Linked DNA regions of Homo sapiens. The protein of the gene in region 7 purifies or fractionates together with the protein of the main gene of each other region. This does not show direct contact. Each region holds a gene or a part of one and is shown on either strand. Other genes may lie near its edges.

What was found.
Region 1: the proteins of RAPGEF5 (region 7) and PPP2R5D purify together in Homo sapiens (affinity purification with mass spectrometry; 2 studies listed by BioGRID and IntAct, with this or other methods). This does not show direct contact.
Region 2: the proteins of RAPGEF5 (region 7) and HERC1 purify together in Homo sapiens (affinity purification with mass spectrometry; 2 studies listed by BioGRID and IntAct, with this or other methods). This does not show direct contact.
Region 3: the proteins of RAPGEF5 (region 7) and RIPK1 purify together in Homo sapiens (affinity purification with mass spectrometry; one large-scale study listed by BioGRID and IntAct). This does not show direct contact.
Region 4: the proteins of RAPGEF5 (region 7) and FLNC purify together in Homo sapiens (affinity purification with mass spectrometry; one large-scale study listed by BioGRID and IntAct). This does not show direct contact.
Region 5: the proteins of RAPGEF5 (region 7) and PRKACB purify together in Homo sapiens (affinity purification with mass spectrometry; 2 studies listed by BioGRID and IntAct, with this or other methods). This does not show direct contact.
Region 6: the proteins of RAPGEF5 (region 7) and WNK1 purify together in Homo sapiens (affinity purification with mass spectrometry; 2 studies listed by BioGRID and IntAct, with this or other methods). This does not show direct contact.

What each region holds. Positions count from the first base shown.
Region 1 is NC_000006.12:42,987,570-42,991,069, forward strand, and holds part of PPP2R5D (serine/threonine-protein phosphatase 2A 56 kDa regulatory subunit delta isoform), read left to right. Parts: intron 1-2,041; coding exon 2,042-2,119; intron 2,120-3,500. UniProt on the Homo sapiens protein: The B regulatory subunit might modulate substrate selectivity and catalytic activity, and might also direct the localization of the catalytic enzyme to a particular subcellular compartment.
Region 2 is NC_000015.10:63,659,449-63,662,948, reverse strand, and holds part of HERC1 (probable E3 ubiquitin-protein ligase HERC1), read left to right. Parts: intron 1-927; coding exon 928-1,196; intron 1,197-1,923; coding exon 1,924-1,976; intron 1,977-3,012; coding exon 3,013-3,213; intron 3,214-3,500. UniProt on the Homo sapiens protein: Involved in membrane trafficking via some guanine nucleotide exchange factor (GEF) activity and its ability to bind clathrin. Acts as a GEF for Arf and Rab, by exchanging bound GDP for free GTP.
Region 3 is NC_000006.12:3,081,994-3,085,493, reverse strand, and holds part of RIPK1 (receptor-interacting serine/threonine-protein kinase 1), read right to left. Parts: exon of another isoform or gene 2,834-3,500; intron 2,410-2,833; coding exon 2,181-2,409; intron 236-2,180; coding exon 86-235; intron 1-85. UniProt on the Homo sapiens protein: Serine-threonine kinase which is a key regulator of TNF-mediated apoptosis, necroptosis and inflammatory pathways.
Region 4 is NC_000007.14:128,836,906-128,840,405, reverse strand, and holds part of FLNC (filamin-C), read right to left. Parts: intron 3,247-3,500; coding exon 3,149-3,246; intron 3,009-3,148; coding exon 2,858-3,008; intron 2,770-2,857; coding exon 2,651-2,769; intron 2,420-2,650; coding exon 2,342-2,419; intron 2,140-2,341; coding exon 1,977-2,139; intron 1,804-1,976; coding exon 1,603-1,803; intron 384-1,602; coding exon 246-383; intron 1-245.
Region 5 is NC_000001.11:84,199,771-84,203,270, reverse strand, and holds part of PRKACB (cAMP-dependent protein kinase catalytic subunit beta), read right to left. Parts: intron 589-3,500; coding exon 466-588; intron 1-465. UniProt on the Homo sapiens protein: Mediates cAMP-dependent signaling triggered by receptor binding to GPCRs.
Region 6 is NC_000012.12:902,579-906,078, reverse strand, and holds part of WNK1 (serine/threonine-protein kinase WNK1), read right to left. Parts: intron 1-3,500. UniProt on the Homo sapiens protein: Serine/threonine-protein kinase component of the WNK1-SPAK/OSR1 kinase cascade, which acts as a key regulator of blood pressure and regulatory volume increase by promoting ion influx.
Region 7 is NC_000007.14:22,305,155-22,308,654, forward strand, and holds part of RAPGEF5 (rap guanine nucleotide exchange factor 5), read right to left. Parts: intron 3,354-3,500; coding exon 3,185-3,353; intron 1-3,184. UniProt on the Homo sapiens protein: Guanine nucleotide exchange factor (GEF) for RAP1A, RAP2A and MRAS/M-Ras-GTP. Its association with MRAS inhibits Rap1 activation.

The DNA.
Region 1 (3,500 bases), on a different chromosome or scaffold from region 7:
TAAGAGTTGGGCCCAAAACACAGGGCTGAGTCCAAACATGTTCTTTTAACCTCTGTGCTACACAGCATTTGACTACTGAGCTGGGCTGAAATGTGTGTGCTTCACCTGTTCTGCAGGAGCCAGGGAGCAAGGGTGGTAGGCCTGGTTCCTCCATGCCCACTCACACCCACACACTAAGGCAGCTGGATCTCTCTTAGGCTCATTCTTTGAAAGATACGTCTGAGGCATCATGCTGAGTGCTGTAGGGTGGGTGGAGGGGTACAAAAAAGAATAAGCAGCTTATGGTCTAATAGATTGGAGATGTATGAAGATGGGTCAGCTTTGTTCAAGGGGTTCATGTCTGGGGTGTGTGCAGACACCTCAATGTTGTGTCCTGCCTGCACCCTGCCCCCGGCCTATTTCTCTCCACCCCATGCTCTCAGCCACTGATAAGGGTCAGTGTGGCCAGCTGGGTTAGTATACAGCAGGAGCGTGCTCAGGCCAAAGAAGGAACTCCTTCCCCCTACTGCATGGAGCTGCTCTACACCACACCTTTCTTCCTCCCCACCTCCAAGAAGCCTTCCCCCTACTCCAGCCCACACAGAGCTCTCTTCTCCCTGAAATCCTTTTGCCCCCATAGTCACAATAACTCGATTTAACACTTCTCACTGAAGGGGCTTGGCTGCTATTGAATTGCACAATCTCAGAGCTGGAAGTGATTTCCAAGATCCTCCAGTCCTCATTAAAGGCTTGAATTTCTTTTGCAACATGCCTTACAGGAGGTCACCAAGCCCCTGCTTGAATGTTCTCAGGGGTTGGGGAGCTTTCGGCTTCACTAGGTGGCCAGTTTTAGTGCAATTGCTCCATGATAAAATTCTTCCTTGTTTGGAGCTTCAGGTGGCTTGCAACTTCAGCCCATTGCTCTCGTGCCTCTGGTCCATATGGACAAGTTGCATCCAAGGCATCCAAGTTGCATCTTCATTTGTTTAAGATCCATCTTGCTTCTCCATCCCTCATGACTCCTCCCTTCCATTGTTAACTATCCCAGTTCCTGCAGCTGTTGGTCTTGGGACATGCCTTTGAATCCACTCCCAGTATGGGTTGCATTTCCCTCTAAGAAACACTAGGATTTGTCATGGCCCCTCCCAAGCCTGATGCTCATGACTGAACCAGATCCTCCAGGATAGCCCTGTCAGTGCCAAGCAGTCTGCACAGGTCTTTTAACAAGATGGAAGGTCACATGAGCTGCACATGGATGATTTGTGTTGAGCTTGCAGTCAGACCTAAATCCCCAAGTCTTTTTCACATTTTCCCTATCCTGTCCCTGTGCAGTTGCTTTTTTTGGCTCGAAGCATAGGAAGAGATGCTGGGCAGGCCAGGGCTCTGAGCCAGCTGCCAGGTTCCCAAAGGAGACTTCAGACTAGTGCTCACTCTTTGTAACAGTTCAGGGTTTTACCCCCATCCCTGTCTTAGTGCTTGTCAACTGAGGTGCTCTTGGCATTTTGAGTGGGACAGTTCTGTACCTGTTAGCATTCCTGGGCCTTACTGATTAAATGCTGAGTAGCACCCTCTTGTCTGTGCGCTATTTGTGACATCCAAAAATTGCCTCCCAGTCTTTCCAGGTGGCTGTGAGGGGAGAGTGGTGACTCCCTGCACTCCAGCATGAAAGCCTCCGGCACACCTTTGACCACTTTAGCCAGAAACCAGTGAGCAGCTGTTCCCTGATGCTTTTTCTTTAAGCCTCCTCACCCTGGTTCTGACCTGAGCAAAGGCCCTCCCAGGCCCAACCTCTGCACCAGCCTGATGAGGTGAAAGATGGAGCATTCTCACGCTGAATTAGTGTGTGTTTGGGGTGACTTCCTAACCAGATTCTAAACTCTTTGGAGGGGCTGAATCTCCTTCTGCGTAGATCCCTCCACCCACCCCAGCTCCGCACAAGGTAGATTCTAATTGATTGATTCAACTGGACAGAGGATATTTGCAACAAAGATCTAAGGGAGCCAGATAAGACCTCTCCCTTCTCCTGGCATCTGCTAACTTTACTTTCATCTTTTCCTTTCAGGAGCCCCCCAAGGTTGCCAAATGCACAGCCAAGCCTAGCAGCTCGGGCAAGGATGGTGGAGGCGAGAACACTGAGGAGGTAATGAATGTAGGCGTAGCCTTAGATGTGGTGCAGGTGCCACCCGCAACTCCATGATGGCTAGTTGGGTAGGGGATCCCAGGGGGTGAGGCAGAAGGGAAGGCTTCCATATCCTGGGAGGGACCTGGACAGCCCATCCAGACTGCCCTCAGGCAGGATTTACCTTTGGTTGGTATAGACCAAATACATTCTCTAGTTCTTCAGACTCCCCAGAGATTCCTATGAAAGTTGTTTCTCTGCTTACCAACTTGGAATGTTGAGAATTCCTTTTTCTTAGGGCAAAAAGCGGGAGGTTCTGGGATCCTGGGCAAAAGGGGAAAAGTCCACAGACACTTGATGGGGTAACAAGTGACTTCAGCATGGCTCGGGTGGGGCAGGGGATTGGGAGGGGCTGGTGTCCCTGAGTTGGGCCCAGCTGGGCCCACTGCCCTTGGTCCTGATTGAATGGCAGCATGACTAAAAGACAGTCCTGAGCAGAGTTCAGCGCAGCTTAGCAATCTCGGGTTATAAAGCAATAAACAGCAAGCCGAGAGAACACCAGAAGAGGGAGAGACTTAAGGAAGTACACAGTATGTCCATGAAAGTTTGGGAGTGTGCACAGTGGGATGCTCTGGATGGTGAAAGATCCTGTGAACATACACAGCGAGCATCCACCACATCCTACCTGGAAACTGGTGTTTGGTGCTTTCTCTGCTTTCTCCCTCTGCTCTAAACTGTTCAGAGGGATGAAAGAGAACTGGAAACACAGCTCTCTAGTTATGGACAGGTCTTATGGTTTTTTGGGAGAAGAGATTGATGAGCAAATGTTTGGGGTTAACTATGCGTTTAGATGTTTCTCAGTACTTCTGGTGATAGGTCACCTCTAAAGAGATACAAGCACTTTTCACACCTCATTTTAGGCCTCATTTAAGTAATGAGAAGCTGAGTAGGTTTTCCCCATTTTATAGGCATGGAAGTTGAGGACCACAGAAGAGGAATTATTCTTTCCTCTGCACTTATGCAGTATTCTACTTTTTTTTTTTTTTTTTTTTTTTTTTTGAGATGGAGTCTCTCTCTTGTTGCCCAGGCTGGAGTGCAATGGTACGATCTCGGCTCACTGCAACCTCCACCTCCCGGGTTCAAGCAATTCTCCTGCCTCAGCCTCCTGAGTAGCTGGGATTACAGGCGCATGCCACCATGCTTGGCTAATTTTTTTGTATTTTTAGTAGAGACGGTGTTTCACCATGTTGGCCAGGCTGGACTTGAACTCCTGACCTCAGGTGATCCACCCGCCTCAGCCTCCCAAAGTGCTGGGATTACAGGCGTGAGCCACTGCACCCGGCCCTTATGCGGTATTCTAAATATCTCCTTAATAATCCTTATCACTCAGCTCTGTGACGAT
Region 2 (3,500 bases), on a different chromosome or scaffold from region 7:
TTTTCCTGCCCTCCTGTTCATATAGCTTACTAACAGCAGCCTTGCCTAGAGTTGAAACACTCTAAAAAGTCTTTTATCTCATCCTGAGGTTTGGGGATTTAAAGTTATGAGGTTACTTTGATACCTACAAACTAATAAGGAAAAGTCTCTCTTGCTTTCTCTGTGGGATTTTATTGTTTCTCTCCCCAGACAAGATGAATAGAGTCATACTGTGGTAATATTTGATTCTGATGTCAAAGATAAATTACAAAACAAGCATCAGGTTCCAGTAGACGTTGACAGGTTATATAACATGGCTGCTGTGCTCACATTGCTATCTGAATGCATGTTCTTCTCCTTCATAGGTTCCATTTAATCAATGTAATGCCTTATTCTAGGAACCAGTGCTCACCTAGATCTTGTAAATACCTCCATTTAGGGGCAAGGTACATGGTGGATTTGTATATACATTGGTTAGCATTACATTTTTGTAGTAGGGAGACCAAAAAGCTCATAGATGTAAGTCCTACAGGAAAGAGAATCTGCTATATAAATAAGTGAATCATAATGATTTTTCCCAAAAATTCATAAAGTAGGTATGCATTTTGTGACCAGATGAAAATTAGTTCTTTTCACTAGTGGAGTTTTTTTTTTAAAAAGCCTCATTTTGAGATAGGACAGATTGTCATGTTCATTAACTCTTCTCAGTAGGATACTCAGTTACTTGTATTATTGATATAACTTATTAGAGTGAGAGAGGGCAAAGAACACCTTCCGATTGTGTTATCTGAATTCTGATTTGAAAGAAATTTTTTATTTAGCATTAATGAACATGTTGGAAATATTCTAGCATATGTAATAAAGTAATTTAATATAAATAATCTACTTGGTACTTCTTGGTTTTATGTTAAATTGACTAATCATTTGGTATGAAATCCTTTTGTGCAGCATGTTTGTGAGTCTGAAGACAGGGAAGAAGTGGTGGTGTGTGAACTGTGTGAATGCAGCGTCGTCAGCTTCAATCAGCACATGAAGAGAAACCATCCAGGCTGTGGGCGCAGTGCAAACCGCCAGGGCTATCGCAGCAATGGTTCCTATGTGGATGGCTGGTTTGGCGGTGAATGTGGGAGTGGAAATCCGTACTACCTGTTATGTGGCACCTGCAGGGAGAAGTACTTAGCCATGAAGACCAAATCTAAGTCAACAAGTTCTGAAAGGTACCTTGAAATTGTGTAGATATCCAGACCTCCTGAAGATACCTCATACCTTAAGTCTTGGGAACTGTAGATTTTTCACGTGAGGAGTTACATTTAACCTTCCCTGAAATCCCGTGATTCTTACACTTTGGGCAGAAGGGATGGAGGGGTTTCAGAAATTCATGTTCCCAGGAATAATGGCATAGCAACATATCCTTCCCTGGAGTTTGACTGTGTTAACCTCTGACTTGTTGGCAAGTAATGGTCAGGACCCTTGCCTTAACCCTCAGGAGGCTTCTACTCAATTCTTTTCATTTGTATTTTCTACCATATTTCTGGCATTTTAATTAAGATCTTTTTCCTGATGAAAAAAACAGACTTTTGATTAAACGAGTTCCATAAAAATATTATCTCTTTACATCCTTAATCCCTAGAGAGTAGGTTTGTTGCCCTTAATTGTCAACTATTAAAATCTTTAAGGCTTTATGGAATAGAATTTGGTTAAAAGAGTTGTTTTAGGTAACCCAGAAATCTCCCCAGTAGTTTGGTAAAATAATCATTGATTTTGTAAGCATGTGTGTACCTACATACCAGCAGTTTTTATTATGTTAGCCTATAACATGAAACATACTTTTTTATTTTGTGCTGCTTTATTAATGACCTCTTAAAATGTTCTAATGACTTAATTTGCATCTTGGGGTACTAACTGTTTTATATAAAAATGCAATGTTCTTCATGTTTGGTGCAGGTACAAGGGACAAGCTCCAGATCTAATTGGCAAGCAAGACAGTGTGTATGAAGGTAGTTTGTTTTGAGAGCTTCTTTATTTTACATGTTTTTTTATATATCCTCTCTGCTTAACATCTGTTACTAAAATTCACCTTCGTGTGTGTGTGTGTTTGTATTTGTGTACATGTTAACTTAAATTTTCCCTTAAAAACTCAAGGGAATTTAATAGCAACAACGCTGGTTTAAAAGTCAAAGGAAAAGAACGTGGTTTCAAAGACCAACTTTACCACAGAATATTAATTTCTATTAGGTGTATTTTTTTTTCAAAGTAGGGAAAGGATGTGGTATATTTTGAATTTCCACCCTAATTGTGGAAAGTAAAAAATAAATAGAGATGAGCATTGATTTTTCTGGAGCACTCATTTTCTTGAAATAACTCATTCCCTAATGATTACAGACAGCTAAGAACTCTTTGTTGGACCCATGACAATATTTTTAATTAGTTTAAACCTCTATTACCAGCTGTAGCATTTGCTATTGCTGTCAACTTATTTAACTACATTGACTCCCTTTCCCTGAGAGTCTCACTTATGCTTCAGGAGTGCAGTTTGGTTAAGTTTTCAGGAGATGGTGCCATAGTTCATTATGTGGTCACTGGACTTTCAGTCCATCTGCATTTTATGTATGTATGTATTTATTTATTTATTTATTGTTTTTATTTCTTTGAGATGGAGTCTCACTCTGTTGTCCAGGCTGTAGTGCTGTGGCGTGATCTCAGCTTACTGCAGCCACGGCCTCCCAGGTTCAAGCAATTCTCCGGTCTCAGCCTCCTGAGTAGCTGGGATTACAGGCACACACCACCATGCCTGGCTAATTTTTGTATTTTTTGGTGGGGATGGGGTTTCATCATGTTGGCCAGGCTGGTCTCAAATTCCTGACCTCATGTGATCCAGTCGCCTCGGCCTCCCAGAGTGTTGGGATTACAGGCGTGAGCCATCGCATCTGGCTGCTCATCTGCATTTTAGATGTATTTTCAGAACAACCATTGCCAGCAGATTTATGTAATATTTAAATTCACATACTATACATTTATTTATTTAAATTCCAGAAGACTGGGACATGTTGGATGTTGATGAAGATGAAAAGCTAACTGGTGAAGAAGAATTTGAATTACTTGCTGGACCGCTTGGTTTAAATGACCGGCGCATTGTACCAGAACCAGTTCAGTTCCCTGACAGCGATCCACTGGGAGCATCAGTAGCAATGGTCACAGCCACCAACAGTATGGAAGAGACTCTGATGCAAATAGGTAAACTGAAATCCTGATTTGCATTGATTTTATAGCATCTACTATAATTTGTTTCTTAGATAGGTAAATAATAATAATAAAGTAAAAGTAAATAAGACTAATGGTTCAACATTATCTCACCCCAACAAGTCTCTTTAGCCAGTTGTTTTAACATTTTGAAGGTATAATGTGGTATTAAGTTTTGGCTGGGCTTGGTGGCTTATGCTCGTAATCCCAGCACTTTGGAAGGCTGAAGAAAGAAGGTCGCTTGAGGCCAGCAGTTCAAGACCAGGCTGGGCAACATGGTG
Region 3 (3,500 bases), on a different chromosome or scaffold from region 7:
GATTCAAACCAAGTTCCTAACAATATGTTACTAGGAAAATCACCACACAGGATGCATCCTACACAGTCAGAAAAGATGCTCTTACCAGGAAATGTCGGCCGAGCTTCCGGATTCGCTTCCCAGCAGAGCTTCATGAGACTGATAATTTCTCTTGGGCAGTACTCAGTGATGTCATCCACATCTGGCCTGTTCCCAGATTTTATGCACATTATCAACTGCTGCTCACAGATAGCATCTACAAAGCAAAGACTTTCTTTCAGGTCTTGCTCCTCTCTCAGGCAGGAAGGTGACAGAACTTGAACAATACTGCTCATTTTTCTCAGCCTCTGGTACAGCTGCCTCATTCCATAGAGTGGAATGGCCTTATGACAAGGAGCTGACATATTCCACTACAGAGATGACCAAACAATATCTTAATGTCTGCAGATAAAACAAAATTCTCGACAAAGCTGCCTGCTGATGGAACAAAAAGATTATGTGGGCAAGGCCAATGGCATGCTCCATGTGCAAAAGCAAATACAGGGCAGTCCTTGTCTTTAGGAGCTCAGTTTAATGAGAGTGACTTAAAACACAGAGTGATCATTGCTATTCAAGAAGGCTGAGGCTGGGCATGGTGGATCACACCTGTAATCCCAGCACTTTGGGAGGTTGAGACAGGCGGATCATGACGTCAAGAGATCAAGACCATCCTGGCCAACATGGTGAAACCCCGTCTCTACTAAAAATATAAAAATTAGCTGGGCATGGTGGTGTGCACCTGTAGTCCCAGCTACTCGGGAGGCTGAGGCAGAAGAATTGCTTGAACCTGGGAGGTGGAGGCTGCAGTGAGCCGAGACTGCACCACTGCACTCCAACCTGGCGACAGAATGAGACTCTGTCTCACGGGAAAAAAAAAAAAAAAAGGATGTACAAGGGGTTCCAGTAGCACAAACCTGACTAAAAAGGTCCAGGAAGGCTTTGTTGAGTCCAGAAAAATTAGCAGGTAAAGAATGGGAAAGGGAGACTTAAGGAGGAGGACTCCAGGAAGAGAAGCAGGATATCAACAGACTAGAAGTTACAGAGATCATGACGCATCCCACAAATTCCTCAGTGTAACTGCACACTGACAAAGAAGGGAGGGTTAGGGACGAGGCCAGTAGAGAAGCAAAGGCCAGAACATGAAGGCCTTTTATTCCACGCTGAGGAATTCGAACTTCATCCTGAAGACCACAGAGCATCTGGGAAGGATTTCCAATATGTGAGGGAGAGGGTTGCATGTGCCTTTTAGGACGACCATTTTGGCTGCCACATGAATGGTGGACGGTGGAAGGAGCCTGCTGCAGAAACGAGGAGGGTTTGAACTGAGCAGAGGCCAGTGGAGACAGAGAAAGGCAGATGGGTTGCAGATATATCTTGAGTCATACATATATCTTGAATTCACAGGTTTTGAGATCTGATAGAATGTGGGAGAGAGGGGCAAGGGCGAGTCTGGGATGACTCTGAAGTTTCTTATTGGGCAACAACTTGGTAAAAGGATGGCGATGCCACTTCCCAAGCATATGAAGAGGGGTGAAGCGGGGCGAGCTGCAGGACAGTGTCGACAGGATGTGTTTGGGGGATGCTGCTTTGGAGGTTCCTCTGGTACCTGCGATGGATCTGACTGTAAGACAAGTGGATATCCATTCCAGAGCCAGAGACACAGATTTAAGAAGCATTTGCAAAGAGATGATCATCAAACCATGGGAGCTGATGATCACCCAAGAAGAGTATGTAGGACAACATCCATCAGTTTATGCACTTAACAAACTGCAGAGTGTCTCTATCCTACACAAGCCACGACTTACTCATCTTTATATTCCCAATGCCGACTCAAGTGCCCACAGTAGGGACTGAAAAGAAATAATTCTTGAATGAAGGAGCAAGTGAATGAGTGAAAGTATGAAGTGTATGCCTTGTAGTGTGAAAGGCTAAGTCCTCACAAGCAGAAACAATCAACTTTCCTGTCTAGGAAGAACCCTGGAATTTCACAGCACCTCTCCAGCTAATGACACACTATCGAGGTTCCTATTCATCCTATGATCACTGATTCCTAAATGGGATTACTCATTCATTCAACAAAAATTTACTGGGCACCTATTAGTTCCAGGCACAGTGCGTGTAGATGCTGAGGGGACGGCAGTGGAAAGTAAGTAATGCCTTACTTTCATATGGCTCCTTATTTGCAAATATCGCCCAGAGTACTACAGCAAAGCTGTACACATCCGACTTCTCTGTGGGCTTTGCGTTGACGTCATTCAGGTGCTCGGGCGCCATGTAGTAGAGGGTGCCGCCATTCTTCTTAGCGGTGCCGTCCACTTCCCTCAGCTCATTGTGCTCTTCATTATTCAGTTTGCTCCACATCTTAAAGGAGGCAAGGCCGAGGTCTGCGATCTGCGAAAGACATTGAGCCACTGGGATTGTTTGGTGAAGGCCGTAAGCAAATCAGATCTGACTTTCAATTTTGGGCTTATCCATTATACATAAGGTACGGTAAATTTTCCAGAAATGGTTGCACTGGGCAGGTTCAAAACAGCGACTTCTCAACAGACTCATAGAAACTGTGTGTCTCCTCAGCCATTTGTAAAATGTCGCCCAGGAAACGTTCACATGAAATTCTGGTATCGTATTCCTTATGCAGTAAGGGGGAGGGGAAAAGCGGAAGATGTTTCTGACAAGAACAGTAACAACCAAACATATTTATTCTCATTCCCCATTGACTCTGCGTATGTTTTTCAACTATTTCTAGGGCTTGGGGGGAAAATGGTTATTTTCTTCTCTGCACATTTATGCAGCAGACAGTGGCTAAATACTACACCTTCTATTTCCCCAAATGGCGTCCAGAGGCCCATGGATGCAAGTGTCCAAGGATCCCAAAGACACACTGAGGATAAGGACTGCAGTGTTGCTTGTTTTGAGCTGTAGCCTGAACCTAAGAGGAGATAGGGTGGAAAGGAGGAGAAAAACAGACAAAAAAGCAGAGAGAAAAATAGCAAGGTCAGACACAGAACAAGAACAGTGCTGGCAGGGCAAAATGACAGGGCAGCACAGTTCAGAAGAGAATATAGGTGCCAGTTCCACTTCTGCCTCCAGGAATCCAAGCAAGCATGTGGGGATGAACTGTGGCACATGAGTACCTAAAATTCACAGATTCTAACCCACGACATAAGAGGGAAGTCATGAATTTGAAGATAGGTTATGAATAAGGAATTTTTATTCCCAGCCCTTTGTCCAAGACTAGGACAAAGCGCTAGACGCAGAACCTGCTGGTGATGAGAGGCCCCTGTGTCAGCAGCTCCTGGGTGCCTCCCCCAGGGCTGCTTCCCCTTCCGCTTCCCCTTTTGGATTCTTGTGCTTGGATTCCTGCTGCAGAAGCCAATTAGATATGACACTCCCCCTAGCTAAATCCTGCCCTTGAATGAACAAAAGAAAAATCCCTTTCCCTTGTTCCCTTTACGACAATGGAAAGAATGTGTTCAAAGGAA
Region 4 (3,500 bases), about 110 Mb from region 7:
GGAACACTTGTCATCCCTGTGCATAACACCCCGTATAGCACTTAGGGTGGAGAGAATCATTCCTGGCTTGTAGACCAAGAAACTGAGGCAGAGAGGAGACAATGAGCCTGAGATTCTGGGGTGCCTCTGGTCACTGTGGAGCTGTGGTGCTGGCTGTCACTGCCCTCTGGGAGTCAGAACCACTGGCCATACTTCCCTTATGATCCCCCAGCCCCACCCTCACGACCCTGGGCTCTGGCACTCACTTGGCCCCTTGACCGTGACCTTGAGCTCCCCGCTGCCGGCACCCTTGGTAAACACCTTGAAGTCAGCCACCTCTTTCACGCGAACACCCTTGGGCTGCAGGCCTCGCCCAGAGGCGCGGCAGGCGTTGGGGTTACAGGCTAGGGGAGGAAGAGAAAGGAGGTTGGGGGTGCTGAGGGGCCTTGGACCACTAGCCCCCACCTCCCTGTGCACAGTCCTTCTAACCCCTCCCAGGCACAGGCAGTGGCCCACGGCCCTGCTCTGGAGCCCTTTGTGTCCCCAGCACAACCGGGGCTGCCGGGCTGGAGCTGGCTACAGGCCCCAGATCAGGCAGGTTACAAGAAAGTTTCCGAGCCAGTGCCACTGGGGAAATGCATGGCAGAGCCTGGGCTGAGAGTGGGCTCAGAGAGACAGGGAAGGCCCCTTTACCCAGCCCAAGGCCATCCATCTAGAGCCCTCTGGGCCTCTCAGGGCACCAAAGCAACCTTAGGATCTAAGTCATGCCACAAAACATCCAGCAATGCCACAGAACAAGGGCTACTTCATAGAACTCGAAGCCTGCCATACAACACAGGCAACGTGTGGACATCAGCCTACCACAGACCGTGGCCAGTGGCAATGAGCCCAGGCCTTGCTATGGAACACAGGCAAAGGAATGGGAATCTCAGCCTGCCACAGAATCCAGAAAAATGGCATGGGACCCACAGGTGCTACGAAACAGGACACGACACATATTCCAGGACTACCATGACCATAGGCGATGGCACTGCCCAAGGGGTACCACGGAACACAGGCAATGGCTCAGAGCCCAGATTTCATCATAGAAATCACCAGGCAAGTGGCAAAGACACTAGACCTGCCACAGAACACAGACAACGGCATGGAACCTGGGGCCTGCCACAGAATGCCAAGGAAGGGGGGGCGATTCCACACGGCCCGGGCCATGCCACACAGCACAGGTGAGGCCAGTCAGCTGCGGCCATGCCTGGCCCCGCCTCCACTGGAGAGCATTAATGTGGCATCACTCTCGGCCTGGTGGACGATGGGCACTGAGTGCAGGGAGAGAACAAGTGGGGCAGTCACCACCTGAGGGCTTGGCATGCAGGCAGTACTCCCTAGATATGCCCCCACCCATACAGCCCCGTCACTTCCGCTCAGCCCTCCCAGGGTGGCACATGTTCTGGGACCCTTCACTGTGGCCTCCCAGCTGTGCTCTTAGGAACTCCAGCCACCTTGGGGGTGGGATGGAGGACTCAGGGAGGGGGTCTCTGCAGACCCCCGCCCCAGCTCTTCCTCCTGCCCCTTGCAAGCCTCTGGCTTTGGTAAGGGCTACCGTGGGGAGCAGTGAAGGGCCCTTACCTTCCGACACATGGACAGGGAAGGGACTGCGGGTGATGGGGGCACCCGCAAAGGCCACATGCACGGTATGTGGCCCCTCCATGGCAGGTCTGTATGTGCAGCGGAACGTGCTGTCACCCTTGTCCTCCAGGGCCACCTCCACTGTGTCCCGCCGGCCCTGTGGGTCCACGATCACCACAGCAACATCGCCAGTGCCGGCCCCTGCCGAAAACAGAGGCTGTCAGCACCACTCTGGACACACACAGCTGCCCCGGTGCCCTCACCCTGAGGCTGCCCACCCTCTGGCTGGCATCCCTGTCCCAGCCTCCCCCCACCCCCACACAGCCCCACATGGTCAGGGGCTTTCCACCTGCACCCCCTGGGGCCCGTCCTACCCGCAGTGTAGATGTCAAAGTAGGTGGGTTTGTTGGCCACATTGCCCACAGGTTCCAGGCCAGGGCCACGGGCTGACACCTTGTTGGCATCTCCCAGGGCCATGCCCACGTTCACCTCAAAGGGACTGCGTTCAATGTTCTGGCCAGCAAAGAGCACGGTCACCTAGGGGTCAGAGGTCAAAGGTTAGCTTCTAGGGGAGAGCAGTCCTGAGAGGGGGCAGAGGGGCACAGCCAGGCCAAGGAGGGTGAGAGGCGGGCAGCTGGGGCTCTGGGCAGGCGCGAGGTACAGGCTGAGAGAGGGGTCCATGCAGCCGGAACCAAGGATGTGAAGAGCAGCGCAGGCAGGGGGGCCTAGAGGGAGATACCTTGTGTAACCCAGCGACCTTGGGCACATAGGAGACAGCATAGGTGCGATCCTTGTCATTGTTGGGAACCACCTTAGCCTATTAGGAAGGAAAAAGATTGGAAGCCTCTCCAATGACCATAGCCCCTCCTGACCCCACAGTGCCTTATGCACCCCAGCCCCACTCAGCCCCCATGGTGACACCTTCCCCAGACTGCACAGCACAGTGTGTGGCTCTGGCAGTCACCTCCGGGCCATTCCTGTTGTTGGCCCCACGCTCTCTGGTTCCAATCCCAAGTGAATCCCTCTGTCCCCAGCGGCCTCTGCATACCTCCTCGGTGTGGCCTTCAGGGTCCTCGATGTAGACCAGCACCTCGCCCACGCCCGCGTCCACCGTCTGCACGGTGAAGTGGGCAGGCTGCAGCACGGTGTTGCCCTGTGGCTCGATGCCTACGGGGCAGGAGCAGAGCCCAGGTTACTCAGGGAGAGCCTACATGTGCCCAGCTGCCCAGGAGGGCCGCCAGGGGCTCACACATACCAGGCCCATAGGCGATGGCTTTCTTGGGGTTCAGCTGCTTGGATCGAACAGGGGCACCAGGTTTGAGCTTGGCCTTGGGGAACTGGGACAGGTAGGTCATAACAGAATGCTCATCCACGTTGGGGTCCACAATCTCCTCAGGGGCAATGACCTGCGATGGAAAGGAGTGATGTCACATGGCGCCCTCTTTTCCCAGCAGCCCCAGTCTCCCCCTGCACCCTGGCCAGGTAAACTTACAGACCCAACCTCTGCCCCTGCCCCCTTTCCCCCCTGCCCCATCTGCGCATGTACCTGGGGCACCCCAAGCCAGTCGTCGGCCTGCTGCATGGCCTCCCGGGCGTTCTCCACGGGCTGGTTGGGGTCCCAGGCCTCCCAGTCGGGGCAGAGACCTGGAGAGGTGATGGAGGGAGACGATGGTGAGGGGCAGCCAGCCGGCCAGGATGCAGGGCATTTGTTCACCCAACACCCTCAGAGGCTGTGGCTTTACACCCCTTCCCACCAGCTCTAGGCCTTGACCAGCCAGGTTCCTGCTGACCCCATCAGCTTCGAGGCCCCTCACCACGTAGGAGCAGGACAGCCCTCTCCACCACCAACAATGAAGCCTTTCTGCCCTGGCTGACGCAGCCTGGCACCAGCCCTGCTG
Region 5 (3,500 bases), on a different chromosome or scaffold from region 7:
TTCTATAAATTTCCATCTGAAAAAGGCTTATTCATTTTATATTTACTTTTACTTCCAATGTTATAGTATTGGACATAATTAAAACAAGAAGTCTCTCCTGAAAATGGAAGGGCATATAAAACAGCCCCTAAAACTTTTCTCCATGAAGATAGACACATGAAATAATAAACTATTTTTATTTATTTGAAGGAATATCGAGAATTATGGCTATGATCCTGTTCTTTGTGATAAAAATACTAAATACAGAAATTGCTTTACTGTTTTGTTAATTTCTTTATAAAACTGCCCTTTTTTTCTTAAGAGACTGAAATGATTCAATTCTTATGATAGTAAGAGCAGCAACTGTAGATTTTTCTATATTTTTCCCAATGTAGAATAATAATTATGACACAATATAGTTTCAATTCATGAAGCTTAAAATTCATATACAGTAATAAGAGAGGAATAATAAAATGTTTTACTTACCTTTCCAGAAACAATCTTTTCATAAATCTGAATTGGTTGGTCTGCAAAGAATGGGGGATAGCCAGCTGCCATTTCATAGATTAGCACTCCTAATGCCCACCAATCCACTGCCTTATTGTAGCCCTGAGATAAACCAACACCAATGTCAATTGTTACTTAAGTTACTCAAAAGAGAATGAAGTCAAAGATAATTTCAAAATGATCTGGAAGCATATAAAAATTTTTTTAAAGCAATTGCTGAGCAGCTATTCAGGACAGAATTTAAAAATGAACCAAATGTATCAGGTCAGATTTAAATTAAACAAAGGAGAGGATTTCCAGATACTGAAATTGGATATTAGGAAAGAGTATTAAATCTTCTTCCTAAAATTATTAAGAATATTATAGACAATGAAATTTTCTTTATTTCACTGGTATAATTTAGTTCTTGCTCAATAACAGGAAGGCAGTTAGACCACATTACTTCTTAAGGCCCACTCTAGGTCCATAATCTTATGAAACAGATTTTCCACAGCATGCCTAGAAAGATCAAAAGTTTTCAAAGAAAATAATAGAAACTGGACTACATAGTAAATAATGAAGTTGACTTCAAAATACTCTATATTTTTGGAGTTAGGAGGGTGAATGTGCTAGGGATAATCCCATCTGCTTCATAGGATTTTGTGAAAGCAAAAAGTTTAATGTAAAATTCAATTCATGTAAATATTTAGGTATACTTTACTTCTGCTATCTACTGTCTTGCTTCCTATATCTAAAAGATATGCAGGAAAAAAATGAATTCACAGAGTTTTGTGAGGACTGTATCAAATGAAAGGGAGTAACGTGTGTAAAAAGTGCTTTGCAAACCAAATGTAAAAATCACAGGTTATGTTTGTTTTTTTCATATTAAGCTTACTAAAATTAAAATTTGTAAGTATTCATAAGAAAATAAATAAGAATAACATCTTCATATTAACATGCTAATATAGTTTATTAACTATGGTCAGTATCAACTGACACAAGAGATTTTTTAACAACCCCAAAAACCTGTCATGAAGAGAAATAAGCTGAATTCTACCCAGATCTATTGCTCTGCCCTCAGAGGTACCCTCTACCATCACGACTCACCACATTCCACCCTTTTGTCAAAATTTTAGCTTTACAAACTACTTAGTTTTCAAAATTCTAGCAAAAATATAATACTTTAGCGCTATAGAGATTTTCTTTTTCTCTTTTTTTTCCTGATACTGTGTATATCTTTTTAAGGGAAGGAGTGGTATAACAGGAATAGCACTTTGTTTTTTAATAGAAATAGGCATTAACTCTCTTTAACTTTTTGATTCATATGTTTAAATTGTGTGCTAATGTTTATAGTAAATATGTCAGACACAAGTTAATACCCAAGGTATAGAAATCAAAACACATCAATAAGAAAAATGTTAAATTACAATAGATAAATGGGCCAAGGAAATGAACTAATAATTTACAGACACATAAAGAAATACCAAATGGCTATTAACCATTTGAAAAATAAATAAAAAACATGAGAATTAAAACAATGAGATACAATTTATTGCCTATGAAATCAGTAAATATTTTAAAAATGAGTATACCCAGTGATAGTGTTATGAAATAGGCACTATAATACACTAATGGTAGAAGTGTAAAATGGCATAATAACTTTGGAAAGCAATTTGGCAATATGTATCAAAAGCCTTAAAAATGTTCCTATTCCTTGACCCAGTAATTCTACTTCTGGGAATATATGCTAAGGAAATAATGTAAAATAAGGAAAAAACTTTTATGTATAAGGATGTTTATCATAGTTATTTATAATAATAAAAAAATCAAAAATAAAACCTGAACACTCAACGATAGAAGAGTGGCTACATATTTTATGGTACATTTACAAACAAGCCATTAGAATGATGTTTGCATGCTTGTTATTATAAAAGTGAAAAAAGTCAGAGACAAGACTATATATATTTACTATGATTTCAACTATGACAACCCAGAAATAAGTCCATACACCTACGACCACCCGATCTTTGACAAAGCTGACAAAACCAAGCAATGGGGAAAAGTTTCCCTACTCAATAAATGGTGCTGGGATAACTGGCTAGCCACATGCAAAAGACTGAAGATAGATCCCTTCCTTATACCATATACAAAAATCAACTCAAAATGGATTAAAGACCTAAATGCAAAACCCCGGAGTATAAAAACCTTGAAAGACAACCTAGGCAATGCCACCCTGGACATAAGAATGGACAAAGGTTTCATGACAAAGACACCAAAAGCAATTCCAACAAAAGCAAACACTGTCAAGTGGGATCTAATTAAACTGAAGAGATTCTGCACAGCAAAAGAAACTATCAACGGTAAACAGACAACCTACAGAATGGGAGAAAATATTTGCAAACCATATGCATCTGCCAAAGGTCTAATATCCAGCATCTATGAGGAACTTAAACAAATTTACAAGAAACAAACAACCCCATGAAAAGGTGGGCAAAGGACATGAACTGACACTTTCTAAAACAAGACATACATGCGGCCAACAAAGATATGAAAAAATGCTCAATATCACCGATCATTAGAGAAATGCAAGCAAGTCAAAACCACAATGAGATACCATTCCACACCAGTCAGAATGGCTATTACTAAAAAGTAAAAAAATGGAAGGGCATAGTGGCTCACCCCTGTAATCCCAGCACTTTGAGAGGCCAAGGAGGGTGCACCACTTGAGGTCGGGAGTTCAAGACCAGCCTGACCAATATGGTGAAACCCTGTCTCTACTAAAAAATACAAAAATTAACCAGGTGTTGTAGTGCATGCCGGTAGTCCCAGCTACTTGGGAGCCTGAAGCACGAGAATCGCTTGAACTCAGGAGGCAGAGGTTGTAGTGAACCGAGATCACGCCACTGCACTGCAGCCTGGGCGACAGAGCAAGACTCCATCTCCAGAAAATAAATAAATAAATAAATAAATAAACAAATAGTCAAAAAATAACAGATGCTGGCAAGGTTGCAGAGAAAAGTGAACACTTAGACACT
Region 6 (3,500 bases), on a different chromosome or scaffold from region 7:
TAACGCAATCCTGCCACTTCAAAGCCTGTTACTGACCATCGCTGGTCTCAAGTCAAGCTTATATCCTACCACCTGGGGAATGGCACACACAAGCAGGTCTGTGCTGCAGTAACAGCTAATTCTGAGGTGAAGCTGCAGTGAGGAAGGTCACATGCTTCTTACCGCTATGGCAAGACACGGAACTACTGCAGTGTGAGTGTCAGCTCATTTCTTGGTGTCTGCTGGAGCCACAAGGGGATTGCTATTGCACATACAGTGTGAAGGGAAGAGTAAGCTCCCTACAGTACAGGAAACGCGAGGGGAGAAGCATGAGAGCACAGAAAACAGCCTTCCATGAACAGCCAATGTGAGAGAGTGGTGAAGTGGGAAGCACAGGCAATGAGGATGGGCAGTCATGACAGTGAGTGACTCAATCTAGAAAGCAAGCATATCACATGCATGGGGATTGTCATCCTGTTTGAACAATTATTGCTTGGTGAGCTTGATGTGAGAGACAATCAAAACAAAAAACAGAAATAATCACAGGGGAGCAGAGCTGTCAAAAGCTAAATACAAGAAGCTCAGGAGGCGTGACCATTGCTTATCCACAGAGCTCATGCTGGGAGACACACCTCTCTAGTCTGTCGCCCCTGATGCTGCGAGGCCCCTTTAGAACGAAATTTCACTTTTCATTTTACCCTACATTACCTAATACAGGATTCTCTATGAGGAAAGAGAAACCATGAGGAAGAGTCAACCATACAGCTAAACCTTCACGTTCTGGCTTCTGTATACAGGCCTCCCATTAAAGAATGAAACAAACCTATCATTTTCTGACCAGAAATTAACTCCTAAGAAAAGGAGACTTGACTATAAAAGATGTAGAAAGGCCTTTGAGAGAATATGCTAACTTCTTAACCTTTTTTAGTTCTTCTGAAAAGCCCTAATAAGTAGTATAGACTTACCCCCAAGATTCATTTTTAAATTTCCTCCTGCCATTATAATACATTTCCCCTATTCCCACATCACCAGATCCTACTAACAATAACCTATTATGAACCATAACTTACAGCCCAACATCCCAAGTACAGAATTTCCCTGTTGACCCTACCTACAACACTGTAAGTGGCCTTCTCATTAAAGTATGAGAAGCCACAGTCTAAGAAGACAAACTCTAGAAAGTGGTGTTTTTCTCCTCGTCAATCTAGCACACATCTCCCACTTCAGTGTGAACGTGGGAGGGCATGGACTTTTGTATGCTTTCGTCACTGCTGAGTTTCCAGTTGGGGTAATAACACTGCCCGGCACATATTTGCTGACCAAAGGATCGCTCTCCCATAGGAACTAGGCATCCCTGACCTCCCTATATATACCCATGGCCATTACCAATCCATGTCTGTCACAAGCTAGGCTCACATGGGGTTATCACTGAGGGCACCGACTAGGAGATGATTTCTCAATTAAGCATGTTAAATATTTATTAGAATAGGATACAGAGATAGATGGAAGTTAGGAATCAGGGAGCTATGAGACTGCAGAGTTGAAAGAACTCATGGTTAACAGGCTTTGCAATCAAGGACCAAAAATAACAGAAAAGATAATTACTACAGAGCTGGTTGCAAGGACAGACTTTTTTCACCATCTTCCCTGAAGCACAAAGAGAGAAGCAATGTGTTAAAGATAAAGAAACATCAGTGTAAAATATTTAGAATCTCCAAACAGCACACAAACGCCCAGCAAGAGAAAGCAGGAGGTGAGACAGATAGGTAGGACCTGGTAGCCCTTGAACAGATATAGTTCTACAGAATGTTTCGAACTGGCTGTTAGCCTTAACATGATTATCTGATGGGCTGTGTTACGTGGCTGACAGATGTGGAGTTTCTACACCCAATCTTTGTATCTAAAAGAGTAATGCCCTGCACTGAGGTTCTGGAATTGGCGAGGAACTCCAGTCTCTCAGGTCTCACTGCTTGAATTTCAAATACCCAAGCAGCGTTTCCACTGATCCTGTCCCACTTCCTGTTTCTCCAGCTGGGCTGTTAAAAAGCACTCAGTTAAATGCATTAGCAACCCCACCACAGTAGACTGATAGTATCACTGTTACAGCTTTAAGTTCATTTAAATTGGCTATTATATTTCCACATCCCACATATATATACTAACCCCTTCCCTTCCAGAATAGTTTTTAAAAGTACGTGGAAAACAAGCAACCTCTGAACATAAATATAGCAGTAAGCCAAGCCGTGCTTCCAAACCATTATCTATTTTGAGAGCATAGAATAATACATCTCAAGCTAGTAAGGTGCCCTACTCTTTCAAGTACCTGTTTCCTTTCCATATTTCAAGTATGTCTCTTGGGATTTGTTTACCAGGCTTACATGATGTATCCTGATGTGACTTCTAAGGATGTAGGGCCTTTCATTTTGCACCCAAAGGGAAGTGACAAGATTCAATATTTCTGACCACTTTCATTTGAACAACAGGGGTAATACCACCTACCTTTAAAAGTGGGATGAGAATTTATGGAATTTAATTAAAGTGGTATTTGTCACATTATATTTCAGAAACAGAAGCTTTGGTTCTCTTTCTTCCCTCTCAGACACTTCAGGCTGTAGACCATAGGCCTGACATGTCACATTCTACTTCAAAAACACCCCCCTTGCAACTTTCTAGGTGGACATGCAAATTAAATGCTTATTCAACTGTCAAAGTGCTAATATGCACAGTCCAGGAAAGTCTGACCAGAAAAATTATTGATCTGAGTCCTCAAAAAAAAAATCACACAAGCCTGGAAAACGATCGAATTGGGTAATGCCTTCCACCCGCTTCTTTGTTAAACAGCCTGGGACTAGTGCATGTGGGGAAAGTCAGTAAAGACTGCCTCTCAAGTACAGCTAACTCATTACTAATACAGGTACAAATAATAGGGGTGCTGGAAGGAGCCAATCCATTTCTAATGCAGGTAAAAATAACAGGGGTATGTGTGAGGGAAATGGCAGTTAAACGTGTCATATGCTTCGCTTTAAATCTAGTCACTACAGAGAACAAAGGGAGGTTGTAAATTCTTCCCACCGTGAAGAGGCCCAAGGGCCTCTGACCCATACTCAGAAACAGTGATGGCCTGAGCACATGCATGTAAAAAGCACTTCAATAATCACATCAGAAGTTTGAGGCCTTAACAGAGAAGATCTTTATTCAAATTATAACAAAGGTTTTTCTACTTGAACTATGTTTTTGTTTGTTTTAAACTGTTCTTCCACGAACAGTTATTGACTACCTGTTCTGTGCCAGGTAGGCACTGACTCATCAGAGAGAAACCATGAGTGCTTTTCAAGCGCTACCTGTTTCTCTGTACATGATCTTAGCTTGATTTGTACGATGGCCCTAGGACACTGGCATCATCTCCATTTCACATATGGGGAAGATGGGGTGACTTGCTATTGTGCCTTGTTTTTAAGTAGAAAGCTGCAAAATCCCAGAAATCATGTTAGAAGGAGAATTTTCACTTGCAGATGCTGGGC
Region 7 (3,500 bases):
GGTTACCCGATCTCTGTACCTAATTTCCCCTCTTATTTAATAGAGATAATAATAGTACCTGTCTTATAACATTCTTCTGAAAGTAAAATAATGAATATAAAGCATTCAGCACAGTGCCTGACCTAAAATTCATTCTCCACAATCAACCTTTCTATTAGCACAGTCTCATCAATATTCTGAAGCTTATTCTCCTAAAAACAGTCCATATTAACTATTCAGTATTGTCATTTAACAGGAGATTTTATTTATTTTTTCTCTTTTTTTATCTTTCTGGGTACAGAGTAGGTATATATATTTACGGGGTACATGAGATGTTTCGATACAGGCATGCAGTGTGAAATAAGCACATCATAGAGAATGGGGTACCTATCCTCTCAAGCATTTATCCTTTGAGTTACAAAAAATCCAATTGCACTCTTTAAGCTATTTTAAAATGCACAATTAGGTTATTATTGGTATAGTTACCCTGTTGTGCTATCAAAGAGTGGGCCTTATTCATTCTTTCTAACGTTTTTTTGGTACCCATTAACCATCCACACCTCCCCACTAGTCCCCAATTACCCTTCCTAGCCTCTGGTAACCATCCTTCTACTGTGTTCATGAGTTCAGTTGCTTTCATTTTTAGACCCCACAGATAAGAACATGCAATGTTTGTCTTTCTGTGCCTGGCGTATGTCATTCAACATAATGCCCTCCAGTTCCATCCATGTTGTTGCAAATGACTATCTCTCATTCTTTTTTATGGCTGAATAGTATTCCATTGTGTATATGTACCACGTTTTCTTTATCCATTCATCTGTTGATAGACACAGAGGTTGCTTCCAAATCTCAGCTGTTGTGGACAGTGATGCAAAAAACATAGGAAAGCAGGTATCCTTTTGATATATAATCTTTCTTTTGTGTATACACTCAGCAGTGGGATTACTGGATACTATGGTTGCTCAATTTTTACTTTTTTGAGAAACTTCAAACTGTTCTCCATAATGGTTGTACTAATTTACATTCCCACCAACAGTGTACAAGGGTTCCCTTTTCTCTGCATCCTCCTCAGCATTTGTAATTGCTGTCTTTTGAACATAAGCCATTGTCTTTTGAATATAAGCCATTTTAACTGGGGTGAAATGATATCTCACTGTAGTTTTGATTTGCATTTCTCTGATGATCAGTGGTGCTGAACACCTTTTCATAAACCTGTTTGTCATTTGTATGTCTTTTTTTGAGAAACTGTCTATTCAGATCTTTTGCCCATTTTTAAATTGAATCATTAGATTTTTTCCTATAGAGTTGAGTTCCTTATATATTCTGGTTATTAATCCCTTGCCAGATGGGTAGCTTACAAATATTTTCTCCCATTCTGTGGGTTGTCTCTTCAATTTGTTCATTGTATCCTTGCTGTGCAGGAAGATCTTCAACTTAATGTGATCCCATTTGTCCATTTTTGCATTAGTTGCCTGTGCTTGTGGAGTATTGCTCAAGAAATTTTTACCCAGATCAATTTCCTGAAAATTTTCCCCAATCTTGTAGTTTCATAGTTTGAGCTCTAAAAGTCTTTAAATCATTTTGATTAGATTTTTTATATGGTGAGAGATAGGGGTCTAGTTTCATTCTTCTGCATGTGGATAGCCAGTTCTCCCAGCACCATTTATTAAAGAGACTGTGTCTTCCTCAGTGCATGTCTTGGCACCTTGTTGAAAACGAGTTCACTGTAGGTGTGTGGGTTTGTTTCTGGGTTCTCCATTCTGTTCCATTGGTCTATGTGTCTGTTTTCATGCAATTACCATGCTGTTTGGGTTACTATAGCTCTGTAGCATAATTTGAAGTCAGGTAATGTGATTCCTCCAGTTTTGCTGTTTTTGCTTAGGGTAGCCTTGGCTATTCCGGATCTTTTGTGGTTTCATATAAATTTTAGGATTGTTTTTTCTATTTCTGGGAAGAATGTCATTGGTATTTTGGTTGGGATTGCATTGAATCTGTAGATTGCTTTGGGTAATATGGATATTTTAACAACATTGATTATTCTAATCCATGAACATGAAATATTTTTTCCATTTGTGGTGTCCTCTTGGATTTCTTTCATCAGTGTTTACAGTTTTCATTACAGAGATCTTTCACTTCTCTGGTTAGTTCCTAGGTATTTAATTTTATTTGTGTCTATTGTACACGCTGGTGTAAATGGTGGAGGTGAGGTGGTATCAGTGATTCAGTACTGTTTTTTCTATTTCTTCAGTGCTCCTTTCAGCAATATGGAACTATAACCGGGTATTATGAGTGCTCACCTGATTTTTGGTTCTTATGAAGGTCTTTTTTTCTGTGTAGATAGTTGTTAAATTAGGGTCACTGCCTGGGAGACAATTGGTGGAGACTTCAATTCCCTAATCTTGCTCCACCTCCTTCTCAACAGTCAACTGTCATTTTTTTAACTAATAAGAGTTACCCTTGTTATGGTTATACAGGTATTTCTCTCTGAACCTACTTTCTTATCTATGACATAAAGACCATACTGCTTGCCCCCGCTAATATCATAGAAGTGAAAGAGTCAACAATATGGGAAAGCATTCTGGACACTGAAGTGTTCTGCATATGTAACAGTTTTTAACTGAAATTTTAATCCATAACTCATAATTCTAAAATAAGCTATCACCATGGATAAACAAAGTCATGTCAGAATCACCACATCATGACTCAAGTCCTGTTCCCAAGCCTTCCCTAATTAATTTTAATTCATTTTAATCATATAGTGATTCAGTATCTTCATGTGATGATTCACGTGTTTTAATTTGCCAAATGTTGCTTCTAGACTATTTTCAGAAACATTCTGTTGAGCTCTTAGGAAAGTCACGATTTGGATAGCGAATAGGATGGGAGTTACTATTTTATTCCAACTTAAGCCCAATCATATGTTTTTTCTTAATTTAGATCATCTACTCCTATAACAATGATAATTTAGAAACCACATGGTACAGATGGTTAGGCATAGGCTTCTGGGATTTAAATACCAGTTATTTATTAGCTGGATTTAATTTTCTGCAATTTATTTTATCTTTCTAAATGTGCATCTGAAAAATGGGGATAGTAACTCCCTCTTAAGTGAGACAGTGATCTTAAAGAGCAGAATATAGTCCCTAGACATGGTAAATGTTGTCTAAGTGTAAGAATACAATGGCACAAGAGAGCATCTACTTACAGTTCACAGATGCCACCTCTGGCAGGAATGAGAGGCACAAGTTGCAGTAAAAGCTTGACACCATTTTGCCATTCTTCTTCTCTTTCAAATTCACAGTACAAGTAGCTACATTCATCAGAGGAAAACTGGTAGAAAACATAAGTATCTTGAAAGTATAGATGCTGGTCCACTGTTTGAAACAAAAAATATATAGATCAATTTTTTAAAAGATATTACTCAGAGAGTAATAACTCAAATGATAAATTGAAAGCCCTAATAATTGGGAGCAATCAGGGTTAAGACTATAATTATACATTCTAAGCTCATTCATGTTTAT